Linked DNA regions of Homo sapiens. The protein of the gene in region 2 purifies or fractionates together with the protein of the main gene of each other region. This does not show direct contact. Each region holds a gene or a part of one and is shown on either strand. Other genes may lie near its edges.

Region 1 (4,416 bases), on a different chromosome or scaffold from region 2:
AGCTTCTGCCAACAATTTGGAGGTGGTAAAGATCAGACAAATGACTAAAATAAGATTTAAGGCTGTGTTTTATGTCAACTGTCCATGCTACCCATGCAAGCTTGTGCAATCTGCCTTTTGTTGTTGTTTTCTGTTTTGTTTTGTTTTGGGCTTTTAGCAGCTGGAAGCCATAGTTTTTAGTTTCCGTCCCTACTAATAAGCAGAAAAGAGAGATAAGGAAGGTGCTTTACTAGCCCAACCAGAAACAGAAACTGAGAATCCATGATTGTATTCTCTCCCTTGGACACCCCTGGATGGCTTTCAGGATCTGGGGTGAGGTGGTAGAGAGAGGAGGGAGGATATCCCCTAAGGGAGCTAAAATGCATTTATTTCTGTTAAAACTATCAGGCTCGCATATAAGTCCCCAAAGGAAGGAAAGGTTTATTTTGAGAAAGTTGCCTCAGGCACCTGCAATACACAATAATAACTTGCTGGTTTTTGTAAAGAACATGGGTATATCATTTTAGACAAGCAATATGGACTATCAATATAATTAATTATCTAAGAGTCAAAAGACCCAAATTCTAGTTTCAGCTTAAAAGCAGACTCTGGGGGTCAGACAAATCTAGATTTGGATCTTTGCTCTTCCTGGCCAAGTGATCTTAAACAAGTTTCTTCACCTCTCAGGGCCTTAGTTTAATTTGTAAATTGTGAATTATATATTCTACGTGCCTGGTTCAAAGAGCAGTAATGAAAATCAAAGGAAATAATACATATATAACCATTATACCAGTATAGAACTAAAATATAAATTAGGGAGCATAACTGAAAGAATGATTAAATTATTTCTAGTACTTTGGAAGTGATCTTTTGCTAATTTATTTTATTTGAAAACTTGGCACAAATGCAATATCATTAAACAAATTTTCAATCAGAATTCTAAAAAAAAAAAAAACACCACACACACACACACACACACACACACACACGTACAGCACTTTTAGAGGCCAAGGCAAGAGGACTGCTTGATCCCAGGAGTTTGAGACAAGCCTCCACCACCTAACCCTGGATCCTGAAAGCCATCCAGGGGTGTCCAAGGGACAGAATACAGTCATGGGTTCTTAGTTTCTGTTTCTGGTTGGAACATAGGGAGACCTCGTCTCTACAAAAAATAAAAAATGAGCCGAGCATGATGGCGTGCATCTGTGATCCTGGCTAGTTGGGAGGCTGAGGTGGGAGGATCACTGGGGTCCCAGGGTTCGAGGCTGCAGGGAGCCATGAATGCGTCACTGCACTCCAGCCTGGGTGACACTTAGACTCTGTCTCAAAACAAACAAACAAACAAATATCTGCTTATTCCTCTACTGTAGATTAAAATTATTAAATTTTTTTTTTTTACCTGGCAATTATTCAGCTCTTGAATAACTTCCTTGTTTTCTTTACTGATGTCACATACACAGATGAATTCTGCTTCTCTGTGGCCTTTAAAAAACTTCTCACGGATTCTTTGCACAACAGCAGTTGCTGACCGGCCAGAGGGAACGGAGCAGTTTTCAATATCCCAAAAAACTCCAATGGGGGGTAAGTTTTCTAGCACCTGTCCAGCTACTGCAACTTCTGGTGACCCTTAAGAAATGTTAACATTTTCAATTACTTGTAGTGGAAAATAAATGGCAAGTTACAATAAGATAATAAACTACCTATCATTCTCAGTGGTAGAAAAACTAAATTATTAATGAATGCCAAGTTTTAAGGCTACCAACCTCACTGGTTGACCTAATAAGCAATCAAGCTGTCAAAAAGTATCACTCTAAGAGATTATTTCTGTTTTTCAGGAGAAGACAAATCTAAAAGTCAAGTAACTTTAAGCCCACAATAAATCCACCTCCAAGCATGAGCCACTCTGACATTAAGCAGTGATGCTTCTCTGAACACAAGCACACTAACTGACCGGATACTGCAGCTCCAGGACCCGACTTTCAAGCTTAGCCCACACTTATCTACCTACTTGGTAGTAACCAACACTGAGGAGCTGACAAAGGGTGAAGCTGTTACTGTCGTTGATTTTGAGTTAACGCTGCATTAACATCTGATTTAATATTTTAAAAATGTTTTCAAAACGTCGCATTAACTACTTTTTAGGGAAATTATTTTAACTGAGAACTCTTTGGTTTTCAAATACTGTTTTTAATCAGCCATTAGTAAATTGTTCTAAGCACTTCTAGGGAGTATACCATCAACAAGTGTGATTTCCAACCTAAGGTGACACCAAGTCTTTTCCAGCACTTTTATTTCTCCTGATATACTACCAATTTTTCTATACACAGCTTCTGTGTATAGCCTCGGCCCAACATAAAGGGCAAATGACTTCCTGGTCCATAATAATAAAAAGATTTCTACCAAGATATGGAATTGGAGACTCACATACACAGTAGCTTTAGAACCATAAGGAATCCTTCAAAGGTGATTAAATGCAATGTTAGTATGAGATATTGAAAGCTATTTAAATATGCACATTTTATGCCATACTGTCATTTACCAAATTTTGAAGCAGCTTTGCCTAGACTGGTCGCCAATAACAACGTGGTCTCCTTCCCTGTTCCTTTGGTTCCACAGCCATTACACAGAGGGACAGCAAGAGGTGCAGGTTGAGTATTTGGAGGTGGTATATTTGGCCAGACTTTAGCCGCATCGATTATGCTATTTCTTGCTGGCTGTTTTAAATTTTTTTTAAAAAGGAGGAGGTGTCAGATACATCATTTCAGAAGCTGGAGTTATATACAACAACTGAAAATACACTCTAAGTGTTTTACCTTTCCACTTGCTAGCCTCTAATAAAAAGGACTTTCAAATAATCTTTCCAAGAACCATTAGCTATCAGTTCATAAATTCATTTCCAGAAGTGACTTGACATGATCAAGAAAGATATTCACGTGGTCAGATCTTTACATTCTGGGGCATGAGTCTGCTGCAACGAAGACCTCACACATATTTTACATAAAGGGTAGCAAAGTCTCACTTGAACACCAATGTGACTGAGGCCAAGCTTCAGGTTTCCCACATTATTGCAAAAAGACAACATGCAGTTATCTACCTTACATGAATGGGCCCATGTGTAAGCTGAATGTAAGTTATAAAAAATCCATCGTGCTTTAGCCTTTAAACATAGAACACGAAGGCTTTGCCAACCTCTTGTTTGCAACAAGAGGCTCTAAAAGTATAAACTACAAAAATAATGACTCTCTACTTTTTTGAATGATCTCCCATCTTACCCTTTGTTTCTTTCAGAACCAGCAAAAATTATGCTGATGGGGAGATTCCCCTATACCATGGGAGAATCTTCAACCCCATGTATAATACTTTTCAAGATAAATCCACTTCAAAAGTCATTCCTCAATCCTCAGCTGCACCCAACTTAAGAAATAAAAAGATACGAACCTTGTTTAGACAGTCTTCGCAGTAAAGTGAGCCCTTTAAACAAACCGGAGGTACCACATTAAGGTGCAAAGAGTTGGTGCACAAGTGAGGCGTTAGCTCCGACTGTGAAATGTGCTCTTCCAAATGCCCTGGAGCCCCGCTTGTGAAATCAGAACAGGGGAAATAGCCAGCGGAGGTGCAGCCCTGCAGACTCGGAAACTGATGCAGCTTGTGCACATTACCATGACATGACTGGAAGTGGAGTTTTCCACAACAGGGCAGGTGTTTGCAGGAAGACAGGTTACTCTCTAGACACATGCTGGGAAAGTCACTTGCAATGCCTGCCAAATTGTTCCTAGCTGAGGCATTCTGGAGTGAAGATGCAGACTGGAAAGCAAACCCTGACCCTACCTGACACGTGATTGTCCTGGTGCTTTGCGAGTCTAACAGTGCGCCCGGGTGAATCAAGCTACTGGTACCTCCGCTACCGCCACCACCACCACCAAAACGCATTGGCGAAGTGGAGGGTTCATTAGGGCAATGAGCACAGCAGCTTACTTTGGGGACAGAAGAAAGCTGTATTTTAGGCTGCTGAAGAGAACGAATATCAGGAAGTGGGACTGCTGGAAAAAGCTTAGAGCCAGCATGAAGGGGTGATGGTACATCCTTTAGTTCCACAGCAACTTTCTTGTTCTCCATGTACTCTTTCTGAGAAAAGAAAATCAGAACATAAATTAATTTTATGAGGTCCGTGGTTTTTTGGTTACTCATATCTTACTGCATGCACAAACAGAAATAGTGTTCAATTCTGTTACATCACTAAATCATAACTGAACAAAATGGAATCACAGCTAGTTAAAACCAGGAACATTCTTCAGAGAGGTCTGCAGGACATGAACACTGGAACACACAACTAAAATTAAGACTACATTCTTCCTGAATTGAAACAGACTGGGGTGGGAGGGCCTGTTTACATCTTTAGCAGCCACCATGCCTCAGTAACTTCCTTTTGGTAATTTC
Region 2 (5,334 bases):
GAGCCGAGACCACGCCACTGCACTCCAGCCTGGGCAACAAGAGCAAAACTCCATCTCAAAAAAAAAAAAAAAAAAAAAAGGAAACAGAAAACAAAAGATTAGCCGAGGATGGCAGCACACACCTGTAGTCCCAGCTACCCGGGAGGCTGAGGTGGGAGGATCACCTGAGCCTGGGAGGTGCAGTGATCATACCACTGAACTCCAGCCTGGGTGACAGAATAAGACCCTGTCCCCCCTGAAAAAAAAAGAAGTTGAGGCCAGGCAAGTGGCTCACACCTGTAATCCCAGCAGTTTGGGAGACCGAGGCAGGAGGATCACTCGCACCTAGGAGTTTGAGACCAGCCTGGGCAACATGGTGAGGCCCTATCTCTATTAATATAAAAATAAAACATAAAAAGTGAAGTTGAGACTTGGACTTGAGTCCTTGCATTTCAGACCCGTGGTCTTGCCTACACCAGCAAAGTTCTCAACCGTACAGTCTCTGGGCCAGACTCAACCAACAAACATGTTTTCTTTGGCGTGAACTTTATTTTTTTTTTATGTGAAATGCTGGACAATTGATTCCATGTAAACATCCGGGAGGTCCTCTTGAAAATAAAATTCCAAAATGTGTCAACATTTGGCTCAACTTCCCTGACAAAAGTCATCTGGGACCAATAGCTCCTGTCTTTTCCATGAATCGTTAAGCTCCTCTTCTCATCCAGGCCCTCTTCTCAGGCCTCCTGGAACCCTCTGGACATTCTTTTGGAATTTTGTTTTTCTTTTGGGGGGAAGCTTTCCAACTTGCACAGAATAATTAGCATTTATTTTGAACTCCTGTTTACCCATCACTGTGCCTCAACCATCATCAACATTTATCCCAGCGCTGTTTCCTTCTGTATTTTCTTTGGAGTAATTTAAACAAATCCTGGATGTCACAGTATTTTCCTATAAATATTTGAATCCTTTCTTCTAACAGATAAGGGCTCATTTTGTTACAAAACTACCATGGTCTGTTACCACACTTAACATTAAGTCATTCTTTTTGTTTTTTGTTTGTTTGTTTGAGACAGGATCTTACTCTGTCGCCCAGGCTAGCATTCAGTAGCGTTCATAGCTCACTGCAGCCTGAAACTCCTGGACCCAAGCAATCCTCCCACCCCAGCCTCCTGACTAGCTGAGACTACAAGTGTGCATCATCATGACTGGCAAATTTTTTACTTTTATTTTTGTAGAGATGGGGTCTTGCTGTGTAGGTCCAGACTAGTCTCAAACTCCTCAGCTCAAGCAATCCTCCCGTCTCAGCGTGGGAAAGTGCAGGGATTACAGATGTGAGCTACCATGCCCGGCCAACAATCATTCTTTAATGTCATCTGATGCCCAGTTCATGTTCAAATATCCCTGACTTTCTCACAGATGTCTCTCTCCCTGTGGGCGTTTGAGTTTGGAACTTCTAAGTAACTTTTTTGCTTTAAAGAGAAAGGAGAAGCCAGGCACAGTGGCTCATGCTTGTAATCCCAGCACTTTGGGAGGCCGAGGCGAGTGGATCACCTGAGGCCAGGAGTTCGAGACCAGCCTGGCCAACATGGTAAAAACCCATCTCTACTAGAAATATATAAATTAGCTGGGCATGGTGGCGGCCGCCTGTAATCCCAGCTACTTGGGAGGCTGAGGTAGGAGAATCACGTGAACCCAGGAGGCGGAGGTTGCAGTGAGCTGAGATCGCACCATTGCACTCCAGCCTGGGAGACAAGAGCAAGACTCCATCTCAAAAAAAAAAAAGAAAGAAGGGCCAGTAAGAGAAAAATCAGGAATATGTGACATCAGAGATGCTAGGGGAGTCTGTAGAAGGAGCAAGTGAGCAGTGTGCTTTGGATTTAGCATCAGGGAAGACGTGACCAGGATGAGAAAGAAATATGGAGGAGAAGTCCGGGCGCAGTGGCTCACGCCTGTAATCTCAGCACTTTGGGAGGCCGAGGCGGGCGGATCACGAGGTCAGGAGATCAAGACCATCCTGGCTAACACAGTGAAACCCCATCTCTACTAAAAATACAAAAAAATTAGCCAGGCGTGGTGGCAGGCGCATGTAGTCCCAGCTACTCGGGAGCCTGAGGCAGGAGAATGGCGTGAATCCAGGAGGCGGACCTTGCAGTGAGCAGAGATCGCGCCACTGCACTCCAGCCTGGGTGACAGAGCAAGACTCTGTCTCAAACAAAAAAAAAAAAAAGAAAGAAAGAAATATGGAGGAGATGTGGTGAGTGAGATGTGGTAAAAAAATTTTTTTTCTTTGAGACAGAGCCTTGCTCTGTTACTCAGGCTGGAGTGCAGTGGCGTGATCTTGGCTTACTACAGCCTCTACCTCCTGGGCTCAAGTGATCCTCCCACCTCAGACTCCCAGGTAGCTGGGACTACAGGCACTCACCACCACACCCGGCTAACTTTTTGTATTTTTTGTAGAGATGAGCTTTCACCATGTTGCCCAGGCTGGTCTTGAATGCCTAGGCTCAGACCACCTCGGCCTCCCAAAGTGGACTCCAAATAGGTGCCACTGTTGTGGCACCAGCCCAAGGACTCAGTTGAGACCCTAATTGAATGAATTAAAGATGTTGACACATCCATAATCCCAGCACTTTGGGAGGCCAAGGCGTGCAGATCACTTGAGGTCAGGAGTTCAAGACCAGCCTGACCAACATGGTGAAACCCCGTCTCTACTAAAAATACAAAAACAAAACTAGCCGCATGTGGTGGCGGGCGCCTGTAGTCCCAGCTACTCAGGAGATTGAGGCGGGAGAATAGCGTGAACCCAGGAGGCGGAGCTTGCAGTGAGCTGAGATCATGCCACTGCACTCCAGCCTGGGTGACAGAGCAAGACTCAGTCTCAAAAAAAAAAAATGAAAAAATGTTCTAGAACTAGAGTGGTGATGGTTACACAACACTGTAAATGCACAGAATGCCACTAAACTGCTGAACTATACACTTTGAAATGCTCTATTTTACCACAAACTTTTTTTTTAAAGCAATAGGAGGAAAAGAATTAGCTGATGGGGCAGAGGGAGACAGACGTCCCCTCCTAGAGGATTCTGGGTAGGGGTTGAACTGCCCCAGCTCCTCCCGAACCCCTTTCCAAACTGTCTCTACCTCCCCCAGGCCTGGCTGGACACCCAGGACCGGTGCTTGGGCCACTATGTGAATGGGAAGTGGTTAAAGCCTGAACACAGAAATTCAGTGCCTTGCCAGGATCCCATCACAGGTACGAGATGTCCCCCAGTCATTAGTGGAAGGGAGGTATCTGTGCCCTCTAGCCCTACCCACCAACACCCATTCCCCTTGCCTAGGGCCCTGAGGGCAGGAAACAGCTGGTGGTGGGAGATGGGCTGCGATGTCTGGTTCCTTCTGAAACCAGTCACCCTAATTATGGTTCCGGGTCTCTGTGGAGGCTTTGTGAGACTGCTGTCTGTTAAAATAGCTTCCTTGCCCTGGAGGTGATCATAGCCGTGACCCAGCAGAGAATGGGGACCAGCTTTACACTCTTGGGCTGATCCAGGCTCCGAAAATCTCAGCCCCCTCCAGATATGACATGGGCTACTCCTCCCATCTGAGTCCCCCCACTTTTCTCCCCAGGAGAGAACTTGGCCAGTTGCCTGCAGGCACAGGCCGAGGATGTGGCTGCAGCCGTGGAGGCAGCCAGGATGGCATTTAAGGGCTGGAGTGCGCACCCCGGCGTCGTCCGGGCCCAGCACCTGACCAGGTGATGCAGCTGAGGTGTGGACCCCGGGAGGCGGGGAACCCCAGCATCCACTCGAGACCATGGGAACAAAGGCTATTTCCCAAGATCCCACTGAATTAATTTGCAGCTAAGGCTCAGATTCCCAGTATGTGCTGGAGGCAGTCGTGGCTGAAACATGCATCCGTTGTCCACTATTCACTGGGACTAGAAGCCACAAAGCCTCTATTTCCCAGGACATTCTTGGAGTGCATTGGGGCTCAGTTCACTGGGGCTGGTGAAGCCCCTAAATCCATTTCCTAGCCGCTTGCGGGGAAGCTAGAGACAAAAATTCCATTTCCCAAAACGCAATTGAGGTTAGAAGCTAAGACTCAATTTCCCAAAAGCTTCAGGGATTTCCGGCGGCCAAGACCTTTACACAGCATCCTCAGGGTTTGTGTTTCCATGACTATAATTCTCATAAATCTTCACTGCCCTCTGCCCCAGGTAAATGGTGGGGATGCCTCAGGGGCTCATGGGGATTGTAGTCCAGGTATATAGGAGCAGCCCAGGACTCTGCAAGGCTGAGGGCCGTTGGAAAATGAGCACCCTCTTGCTTTCTCGACAGGCTGGCCGAGGTGATCCAGAAGCACCAGCGGCTGCTGTGGACCCTGGAATCCCTGGTGACTGGGCGGGCTGTTCGAGAGGTTCGAGACGGGGACGTCCAGCTGGCCCAGCAGCTGCTCCACTACCATGCAATCCAGGCATCCACCCAGGAGGAGGCACTGGCAGGCTGGGAGCCCATGGGTGAGACCCTGGAGTCCCTAGCCCTATCCTCCCACATGACTCAGCAGTGCTAGCTCCAGTCCCCTCATTCTTTTTCTTTTAGACAGAGTTTCGCTCTTGTCGCCCAGGCCGGAGTGCAGTGGCGCAATCTTGGCTCACTATAACCTCCGCCTCCCGGGTTCAAGTGATTCTCCTGCCTCAGCCTCCTGAGTAGCTGGAATTACAGGCACCCACCACCACACCTGGCTAATTGTTATATTTTTATTAGAGAAGAGGGGTCTCATCATGTTGGTCAGGCTGGTCTCAAACTCCTAACCTCAGATGATTCACCTGCCTTGGCATCCCAAAGTGCTGGGATTACAGGCATGAGCCACCGTGCCCGGTCCCCTCATTCTTTTTCTTTTGTTTTTGTTTTTGTTTTTTTCTTTTTCAGACAGGGTCTTTCTCTGTCACCCTGGCTGGAGTACAGTGGTGCAATTATAGCTCACTGATACCTCGACCTCCTGGGCTCAAAATCCTCCCACCTCAGCCTCCCAAGTAACTGGGACTACGACCATGCACCACCACACCTGACTAGTTTTTGTTTTTGTTTTTTTTTTTTTTGAGATGGAGTTTCGCTCTTTGTTGCCCAGGCTGGAGTGCAGTGGTGCGATCTCGGCTCACTGGAACCTCCGCCTCCCGTGTTCAAGTGATTCTCCTGCCTCAGCCTCCCGAGTAGCTGGGACTACAGGCATGCACCACCACGCCTGGCTAATTTTGTGTTTTTAGTGGAGATGGGGTTTTTCCATGTTGGTCAGGCTGGTCTCGAACTTCCCACCTCAGGTGATCCGCCCACCTCGACCTCCCAAAGTGCTGAGATTACAGGC
Region 3 (4,416 bases), on a different chromosome or scaffold from region 2:
TTTGCATTTTTTACTTAACAGCATATCTTAGTTTACAGAAGTGAGTCAACAGAGCAGGCCTGACTGCTGTCCTTAGAAAGGTCTACCTGCAGGGTCAGCCTTAGCTAGCATCTGGGAACTAGAGTTTGGGAGTTTCCACCATTCCCTAAACAGGAGTGTCTCACTGTGCCTACACTATAACGTGGTTTATGCTAAACACCTGCTTTCCTTCTAGGAGTTGGAAATTTTGCTATGTGCCAGGCAGAGGATGTCCATGCAACCAGTCCCCAGTAAAATCCCTGAGCACTGACCCACTAACAAACTTCCATGGTAGACAATATTTCATACGTGTTGTCACAATTTGTTCCTGAAGGAGGTTAAGTGTGTATGACTCCACTAGGAAAGGACTCTTGGAAGCTTGCACTGGATTTCCTCTGGACTTTGGTCTATGCCTGCTTCCCTTTTGCTGATTTTCTTTGTATCCTTTCACTGCAATAAACTGTAGCTGTGAGAACAACTAAATGCTGAGTCCTGTGAGTTTCAGCAACTCTGAAAACCTGCTGGTTTTGGGGACCCCTGACACACCTGGAAATCACTCCATATCAGTATATAGAGATCTTCCTTGTTATTATAGCTGGATAATACTCCATGTATGTAAATACCTTATGCCATAATGTATTCAATCTCTCTCCTATATATGGGCATTTAGGTTGTTTCCAATATTTTGCAATTAAAAACTGCTGAAAAGAACAACCTTGTGTATTAAGTATTGTTATACTGCTAGAAGTGTATCTTTTTTTTTTTTTTTTGAGACAGAGTTTTGCTCTTGTCACCCAGGCTGGAGTGACAATGGTGCAATCTCGGCTCACTACAACCCTTTCTTCTGGGTTCAAACTATTCTCCTGCCTCAACCTCCCGAGTAGCTGGGATTACAGGCGACCGCCACACGCCCGGCTAATTTTTTGTATTTTTAGTAGCGATGGGGGTTTCACCAGGTTGGCCAGGCTGGTCTCGAACTCCTGACCTCAGACCTCAGGCAATCCACCCATTTCGTACTCGCAAGTGCTGGGATCACAGGTGTGAGCCACCGCGCCTGGCCACTGTTTTTTTTTTTTTTTTTTTTTTTTGAGACGGAGTCTCGCTCTGTCACTCAGGCTGGAGTGCAGTGGTGCCATCTTGGCTCACTGCAACCTCCGCCTTTGGGGTTCAAGCGATTCTCCCGCCTCAGCCTCCCAAGTAGTTTGGATTACGGCCATGCATCACTGCGCCCAGCTGATTTCTGTATTTTTAGTAGAGACAGGCTTTCACCATGTTGCCCAGGCTGGTCTCGAACTCCTGATCTCAGGTGATCCACCCGCCTCGGCCCCCCGAAGCGCTAGGATTACAGGCCTAGAAGTCTATCTTTTAAGGCAGGTTTCCTTAAAGTGTTCGGTGAACAGGTCGAGGCACCAATAGTTTTGTTAAATGTTGCCAAACTGCTCCTCAGAAAGGTTGTATCAGTTTGCATTCCCACCAGCAATGTATTAGAATGTCTGTTTCCTCATAGCCTTGCTTGAACCAGATACGTTGTCATACATTTTCATTTTCACCCATCTGATAGTCAAAAAGCGACACCCTTAAATCAAAGGGAAAAAAGTGGTATCTCTGGTTAACTTTGCATTTCTCTAATTACACGAGGCTGACCATCTCTTATGTTTAACCACCACCACCACACACACACACACACATACACCACACAAACACACACACACACAGTTCATTATCAAGTCTTCCCATTTTTTTCTTTTTCTTTTTTTGAAAGGGAGTCTCACTCTGTCGCCAGGCTGGAGTGCAGTGGCACAATCTCGGCTCACTACAACCTCTGCCTCCCAGTTTCAAGCAATTCTCCTGCCTCATCCTCCCGAATAGCTGGGACTAAAGGCATGCACCACCATACCCAGCTGATTTCTGCATTTTTAGTAAAGATGGGGTTTCACCATGTTGGCCAGGATGGTCTCAATCTCTTGACCTCATCATCCTCCCGCCTCAGCCTCCCAAAGTGCTGAGATTACAGGTGTGAGCCACCACACCTAGCCCAAGTCTTATCATTTTTCTATTGGGTTTGGTTCTTCATTCCTCAATTCAAGAGTTCTTCATGTATTACAGATATAGACCCTTTATCTCTGATATACATTGCAAATATGTTCTCTCAATTTGTCAGCTGTCTTTTGACTGTGGGATATTTTGTCAATATAGCAAGAGCTCTTATAAATTGAGATCAGGGGATGCCTGGGGTTTGCAAATCTGAAATGGTATGCAAGTGGTATGTCTGCTTTTCTGAAAGGTCTGCAGTGTTCAGATTTCCAAAGGGTCCTGTGACCTGAGAGTGATTAGGAGCTGTTGCTGCTGCCCCACATCTTCCACTGGCCTAACTGTGCCCCACAGGACCACTTCTGCTGAATGACCTCTAAATTGCTGAAGGCTTCTCTCACGTCTCTTGACTGTTCTCTTTCACAAGTTACACACCCAATGACCTGGCCTCCAGATGCATATTTTCAGGTTGTGTCATTAGTGTGAATACTTATCCATGAATGCATTCCTGGTTTTCTATACCTCTCACACACATGACAACAACAGGAAAGTATAATACTCTAGCTGTGGCCTAACCAGCACACAACAGAGCATGACCACCACTTCTCAGTCCAGATAACACATTTCCCTTAATGATATTAAGAGCAAATTGGCTTTTCCTGGAACAAAGTCAATTCTAATTGACCTGCTAAAACCTGCAGGTCTTCCGTTTCCCCTTTCCCCGTAAGTATTTCTGTTTCTTTTCAATTGTGGAGATCACTTTTTGAAACTGAGTACAAAATGTTAACATTTATATCAATTAAATTTCATTCTGCTTTATACAATTCAAAATGGAATATACACTGGTGGAGCTGGGAGGGAGAAAAGGAATGATTTTAAAAAAGAACAGGGTGGCGGGGCGCGGTGGCTTGCGCCTGTAATCCCAGCACTTTGGGAGGCCGAGGTGGGCGGATCACGAAGTCAGGAGATCGAGACCATCCTGGCTAACACGGTGAAACCCCGTCTCTACTAAAAAAATACAAAAATTTAGCCAGGCGTCATGGCGGGCGCCTGTAGTCCCAGCTACTAGGGAGGCTGAGGCAGGAGAATGGCATGAACCTGGGAGGTGGAGCTTGCAGTGAACTGAGATCGTGCCATTGCACTCCAGCCTGGGTGACAGAGCAAGAATCTGTCTCAAAAAAAAAAAAAAGAACACTGAGATAGTAATCTAGTTCTTAGGTTGATTGTTATGTAAGCATGTGTATGTATATGTATGCATATATAAACACATATATACATGTGTGTGTTCATTATACTTTATGTGTATTACGCATGCTTTTATATCAAACATTACATTAAAAAACTTTTCTCTCCTGAAGTGGCAGGTCCCTAAATTGGAAAAAAAAAAAAAAAGAAACTTTTCTTGTTAGACTCAGCCCACCACATCAAGAAGTAACACAATAGGAACTCTGGGATCCTTAGCCTTTTACCTATTTAACTGTATTTTTAAAAGATAGGGCATTGGCCGGGCGCAGTGGCTCACCCTGTAATCCCAGCACTTTGGGAAGCTGAGGTGGGCGGATCACCTGAGGTCGGGAGTTCGAGACCAGCCTGACCAACATGGTGAAACCCTGTCTCTATTTAAAAAATACCAAAAAATTAGCCGGGCATGGTGGCAGGCACCTGTAGTCCCAGCTACTCAGGAGGCTGAGGCAGGAGAATGGCGTGAACCCGGAAGGCGGAGCTTGCAGTGAGCTGAGATTGTGCCACTGCACTCCAGCCTGGGCAACAGAGCAAGACTCCATCTCAAAAAAAAAAAAAAAAATTAGCCAAGTGTGGTGGTGCATGCCTGTAGTCCCAGCTACTCAGGAGGCTGAGGCAGGAGAATGGCGTGAACCTGGGAGGCGGAGCTTGCAGTGAGCTGAGATTGCGCCACTGCACTCCAGCCTGGGCAATAGAACGAGACTCCATCTCAAAAAAAAAAAAAAAAAATTAGCCGGGTGTGGAGGCACATGCCTGTAATCCCAGCTACTCGGGAGGCTGAAGCAGGAGAATTGCTTGAACCCAGGAGGTGGAGGTTGCAGTGAGCTGAGATCGCACCATTGCACTCCAGCCTGGGCAATAAGAGCGAAACTCTGTCTCAAAAAAAAAAAAAAAAAGGCATCACAGTGTAAACTCAAATATCATGTTCAAATGTTACTTAATGCTTCATTCATTCCTAATCATAGTCACTGTATGAAGCCCACTAACAACAATTAACTGCCCTTTATCCTGTGTAAAGAAAAGATATATGTATCAAGAGCGGGATGGGAGCCTAGCCTAGGCAGCCCAAAGAACATATGAACCTGATGGTGGGTCTAGAGCAGGGGTTGGCAAACCACAGCCCTC
Region 4 (4,416 bases), on a different chromosome or scaffold from region 2:
AGCACTGGACCTAAAAGCTTTTTCATAAACTCACCCACACAGCTCACCGGGATGAAATCATTAGCTCTCCTGCCACATCACAATTATCCATACTTCCAACACTAGCACAAGTTAACTGGTAACTACCATGGCAGCAGCACAACTTACTTTCAGGAGAGCCTTCGCTTTCCAGTCGGAGTTTATTTAGGCGCTCTTCTTCCTAGAATTTAGACAAAAGTTTTCCAAGAACACAAGTTAGAATTCCCAGATGCTTGCAAAAGTCCATATGCTGGCTGAGTAATCTGACTCCCTCAAAGCCAACTCCTCCAGTTGGGGTCAGTGCATCATTGGGAGAATATTCTAGGTCATAGGGCCAAACGCCTGACTCCTGCTTACTAAGCAGCATTAGCATCACAGGTGCCCATCCATTGTTCACAAAATTAACCCAGTGAGCTGGCTTCCAAACTGACAAGTGACCTTGGAATCTTAAAGCTGGAAAGGACATCCAGAAGATCTGTCGCAGTCAGAGAAATAAAACAGAAGTTTAAGGCAGGAGGTAGACTGCTATTTTATTTTTCAAGACTTCTAGAATTTTAGTATAATTTTTCCAGAAGCTAAGATCATGTTTCCAACATCACTATGAACTCACGTTTAGCTTAACAGAGATACAGATGGATCCATACAGAAATATTTACAGGTGTATGTGTATGCATGGGTTACTATCCAAACATATATTTTCTTGTTCTGTCAGTGAAGAGAACTTAAAGGCAATGGCAACCTGGTAGCAATGAGCATACCCGGCACCCAGATCTTGGTTTCCAATGCTATTCCACAATAAGAACAGAGATGCTTGAAGAAATGGCTGTTCCAGGGCTGGAGCAGGAAACATACATGCAAGATAAGCCTGGAGCAGCTTATACTGCCAGAAAGTAAGGAAGTGCTCAAAAAAAAAAAAAAAAACAGTCCCATAATGATGGCGCTTTCTCAAAAAGATACAAAAGCCAAATGAAAGATGGGCAGGATGAGGACATAACCAAAGGCCAGTTAGTGCCAAAGCTGGAAGAATTTGAGCAACAAAATAAATAATATTAGATTATAACTCAAAGTATAAAATAAATACCCATGTACTCACATGATATAAATGATTGAATAAATAAATGGGAGACAATAGACATGCATAATTATTCTCCTATGCAGAAGAATTCCAAATAAATTATGTAGATACTCCCTCCATCTAAAGGACAGGAAGCATAACTCCCTGCTCCTTAAATGTAGGCTACACATAGTGACTTCCTTCCAAGGAGAGCCAAGAGGAAAATAACCTTATGGTAGAGAAACCTGATAAGCGTCACCTCAAGCCAGCTAACCCATGGTTAATATCAACAGTGATGTGTCACGTTGACAGTATGTACTTTTTTTTTTTTTTTTTGAGACTCTCGCTCTGTTGCCCAGGCTGGAGTGCAGTGGCGTGATCTCGGCTCACGGCAAGCCCCGCCTCCCGAGTTCACGCCATTCTCCTGCCTCAGCCTCCTGAGCAGCTCCGACTACAGGCATGCACCACCACGCCCGGCTAATTTTTTGTATTTTTAGTAGAGACAGGGTTTCACTGTGCTAGCCAGGATGGTCTCTATCTCCTGACCTCGTGATCCACGCACCTTGGCCTCCCAAAGTGCTGGGATTACAGGCGTGAGCCACCGTGCCCGGCCGTATGTACTCTTGATATGATGTGATAAGAATTGCACTTTACTTCAGTGGTCTTCTCCTCAACATCTATCACCTTAGTCTAGTTGTAAGAGAAACATCAGACAGATTTCAACCGAAGGAAAGTCTATAAAATACATAGCCAATACTTCTTGAAAATCACATCACCAGGTCTTTAAATGAATTTGTAACTTTGTAGCTATTCTTTCAGACCGAGAGGTATCTGAAGTGGCCTGAATAACGTGGGTTCCCCATGATTTGTCCTCAATGGCTAGATCCTAGGATCCTTACTAACCTTAGCTCTGAGCTCCATTTCCGCATCAGATTCATCCAGCCAACGATCAAAGTCAGGAGCCAAAAACAGTGGTCGCTTTTCCTGCTTTGTGAGTCTCTCCCACCACTGACTCACTTTCTTCTGTACTGTAATGTTTACCTGCCTCTGGGTCAGTTTGTAAACAGGCTAGGAGAGAAAGTGAAAATGTGAGAATGCCCTCTTCTGTTCCCTGAAGCAGCACCATGCCAGGGGCGCCGTACATAGAAGCTGCAGGATATATTTATTCTCCTTCTTTCTCTGGTCCTGCAAGTCCTGATGCAAAGGGAACATCTAGACCAGGGGTCTCCAACTCCTGGGCCATGGACTGATACTGGTCCATGGCCTGTTGGGAATCGGGCCACACAGGAGGAGCTGAGTGGTGGGCAAGTGAGTGAAACTTCACCTATATTTAGACTCGCTCTCCATCACTTGCATTACTGCCTAAGCCCTGCCTCCTGTCAGATCAGCATTGGCACAAGATTCACATAGGAGCGTGAACTCTATTGTGAATTGTGCATGCAAGGAATCTAGGTTGCTCACTCTTTATGAGACTATAATGCCTGATGATCTGTCACTGTCTCCCATCACCCCCAGATGGGACTGTCTAGTTGCAAGAAAACAAGCTCAGGGCTCTCACTGATTCTACATTATGGTGAGTTGTATTCATTATATATTACAATGTAATAATAACAGAAATAAAGTGCACAACAAATGTAATGCATTTGAATCACCCTGAAACCATCCCCATTCCACCATCTGTGGAAAAAGTGCCTTCCACAAAATTGGTCCCTGGTGCCAAAAAGGTTGATCTAGACCAACGGCTGGCATGGAGAACTGGTAAGGACATAATGTCCTTCTCTGATTCCCCCAGTGAATGATACAGGAGGATATCAGGATAAGAAAGGCAAATAGTTCCTGGTTAGGCTGGAGGGAACTAGCATGAACCTCCTGCCACAGCCACATCATGCAAGGTACTATGTCCAATCACCCTCTCAAGGGTACTGCATCCAATTACCCTCAGCTTATAAATTTTCCTCCCATGAAAATGACTGTCCTGGCTCAGCAGACCCCGGTTTTAGAAACACCTGCATCAAGATCAGAACTGTATTGGATCAGTTACAGATTTTTTCACAGGGGTCAATTTGGGGAGTCTTCCCAACTAAACTCAAATTCTTATAGGCCATTCCAGCTCATTGTTTGTCTACATGTCCTGTCCCTTTTCTCCAAAGGAAGCTCCATGACAGGTTCTCTGCCCACTGTACCACTGGTTATTATTCATGCTTTCTCAAAACAACTGAGCACCTGCGCACGGAAATCAAGAAGCTCAAGCCACCAGAGCTAAGTGTAATTCCAGAAGCCAAAATACCCCATCTATTGGATTCTCTCCCTGCTTATGAGAGAAGCTTCCTCAGGCTCTAAGGGAAGGGAAGTTTTGATGATATCTGCAGCATTCTTTCTGAAGGCCAGCTGCCTTCACCCTTTCTGATTTCTATTTTTCTCACCTGCAACTGTGGCAAAGTCACATGAAAGTAACCCCTGGTGGGGGCTTCAACCACTCTATGTAACTCTGTTCTCAATGGGTGCCATATTCCTCTGCCATCACTAAAACCAGAGAATATCAGAGCTGGAAGGATCACTTAGTCCAGACCTTCATTTAACACATGAGAACACCAGAACTCGAAGAAGTTAAGAGACTTGTTCAAGATCACACTGCTAATAAATGGCAGGGCCCTGACTCAACTTGGGGTCTCTGACTTTCCCATTCCTCTGCAGCTAAAACCTGGGCTCTGTTCCAAATAAAAGAACTCTATTATTCCCCTTTGGTTTTTATCTTCTTCTCTCCACAAACCCTGCTCCCCATTTCACTAAACTACTGGTATTCATTTCCTAAAATGGGAAGGGAAGTGAGAAAGGAAAGAACATACCTCTGGTTTCACAAGGTCTAAGAACTCCAGGTGAAATTCATAGACATTGTCTCCTTTGGCACCATGTCCTTGAGCTATAAAGAAAGAAATGTGGGTTACTGCAAACTTGAGCAGAGCAAGGCCATCCAAAAGCCAGCTTGGTGCAGTTCTTTCCCAAGTATGCGAATATTACACTTTTTTTTTTTTGAGACAGAGTCTTGCTCTGTTGCCCAGGCTGGAGTGCAGTGGCATGATCTCGGCTCACTGCAAGCTCCGCCTCCCGGGTTCATGCCATTCTCCTGCCTCAGCCTCCCGAGTAGCTGGGACTACAGGCTCCCGCCACCATGCCCAGATAATTTTTTTTATTTTTAGTAGAGACGGGGTTTCACCGTGTTAACCAGGATGGTCTCGATCTCCTGACCTTGTGATCCACCCGCCTCAGCCTCCCAAAGTGCTGGGATTACAGACATGAGCCACTGTACCTGGCACGAATATCATACTTGATTGTAGCCAAAAGGC

Evidence for each region.
Region 1: the proteins of ALDH16A1 (region 2) and MARF1 purify together in Homo sapiens (affinity purification with mass spectrometry; one large-scale study listed by BioGRID and IntAct). This does not show direct contact.
Region 3: the proteins of ALDH16A1 (region 2) and PRR14L purify together in Homo sapiens (affinity purification with mass spectrometry; one large-scale study listed by BioGRID and IntAct). This does not show direct contact.
Region 4: the proteins of ALDH16A1 (region 2) and HACD3 fractionate together in Homo sapiens (co-fractionation; one large-scale study listed by BioGRID). This does not show direct contact.

What each region holds. Positions count from the first base shown.
Region 1 is NC_000016.10:15,632,239-15,636,654, forward strand, and holds part of MARF1 (meiosis regulator and mRNA stability factor 1), read right to left. Parts: intron 4,105-4,416; coding exon 3,418-4,104; exon of another isoform or gene 3,268-3,417; intron 2,694-3,267; coding exon 2,519-2,693; intron 2,022-2,518; exon of another isoform or gene 1,772-2,021; intron 1,606-1,771; coding exon 1,379-1,605; intron 1-1,378.
Region 2 is NC_000019.10:49,455,360-49,460,693, forward strand, and holds part of ALDH16A1 (aldehyde dehydrogenase family 16 member A1), read left to right. Parts: intron 1-1,456; exon of another isoform or gene 1,457-1,564; coding exon of another isoform or gene 1,565-1,567; intron 1,568-3,126; coding exon 3,127-3,229; intron 3,230-3,600; coding exon 3,601-3,727; intron 3,728-4,310; coding exon 4,311-4,489; intron 4,490-5,334.
Region 3 is NC_000022.11:31,732,217-31,736,632, forward strand, and holds part of PRR14L (protein PRR14L), read right to left. Parts: intron 1-4,416.
Region 4 is NC_000015.10:65,554,463-65,558,878, reverse strand, and holds part of HACD3 (very-long-chain (3R)-3-hydroxyacyl-CoA dehydratase 3), read right to left. Parts: intron 3,993-4,416; coding exon 3,919-3,992; intron 2,141-3,918; coding exon 1,976-2,140; intron 200-1,975; coding exon 148-199; intron 1-147. UniProt on the Homo sapiens protein: Catalyzes the third of the four reactions of the long-chain fatty acids elongation cycle. This endoplasmic reticulum-bound enzymatic process, allows the addition of two carbons to the chain of long- and very long-chain fatty acids/VLCFAs per cycle.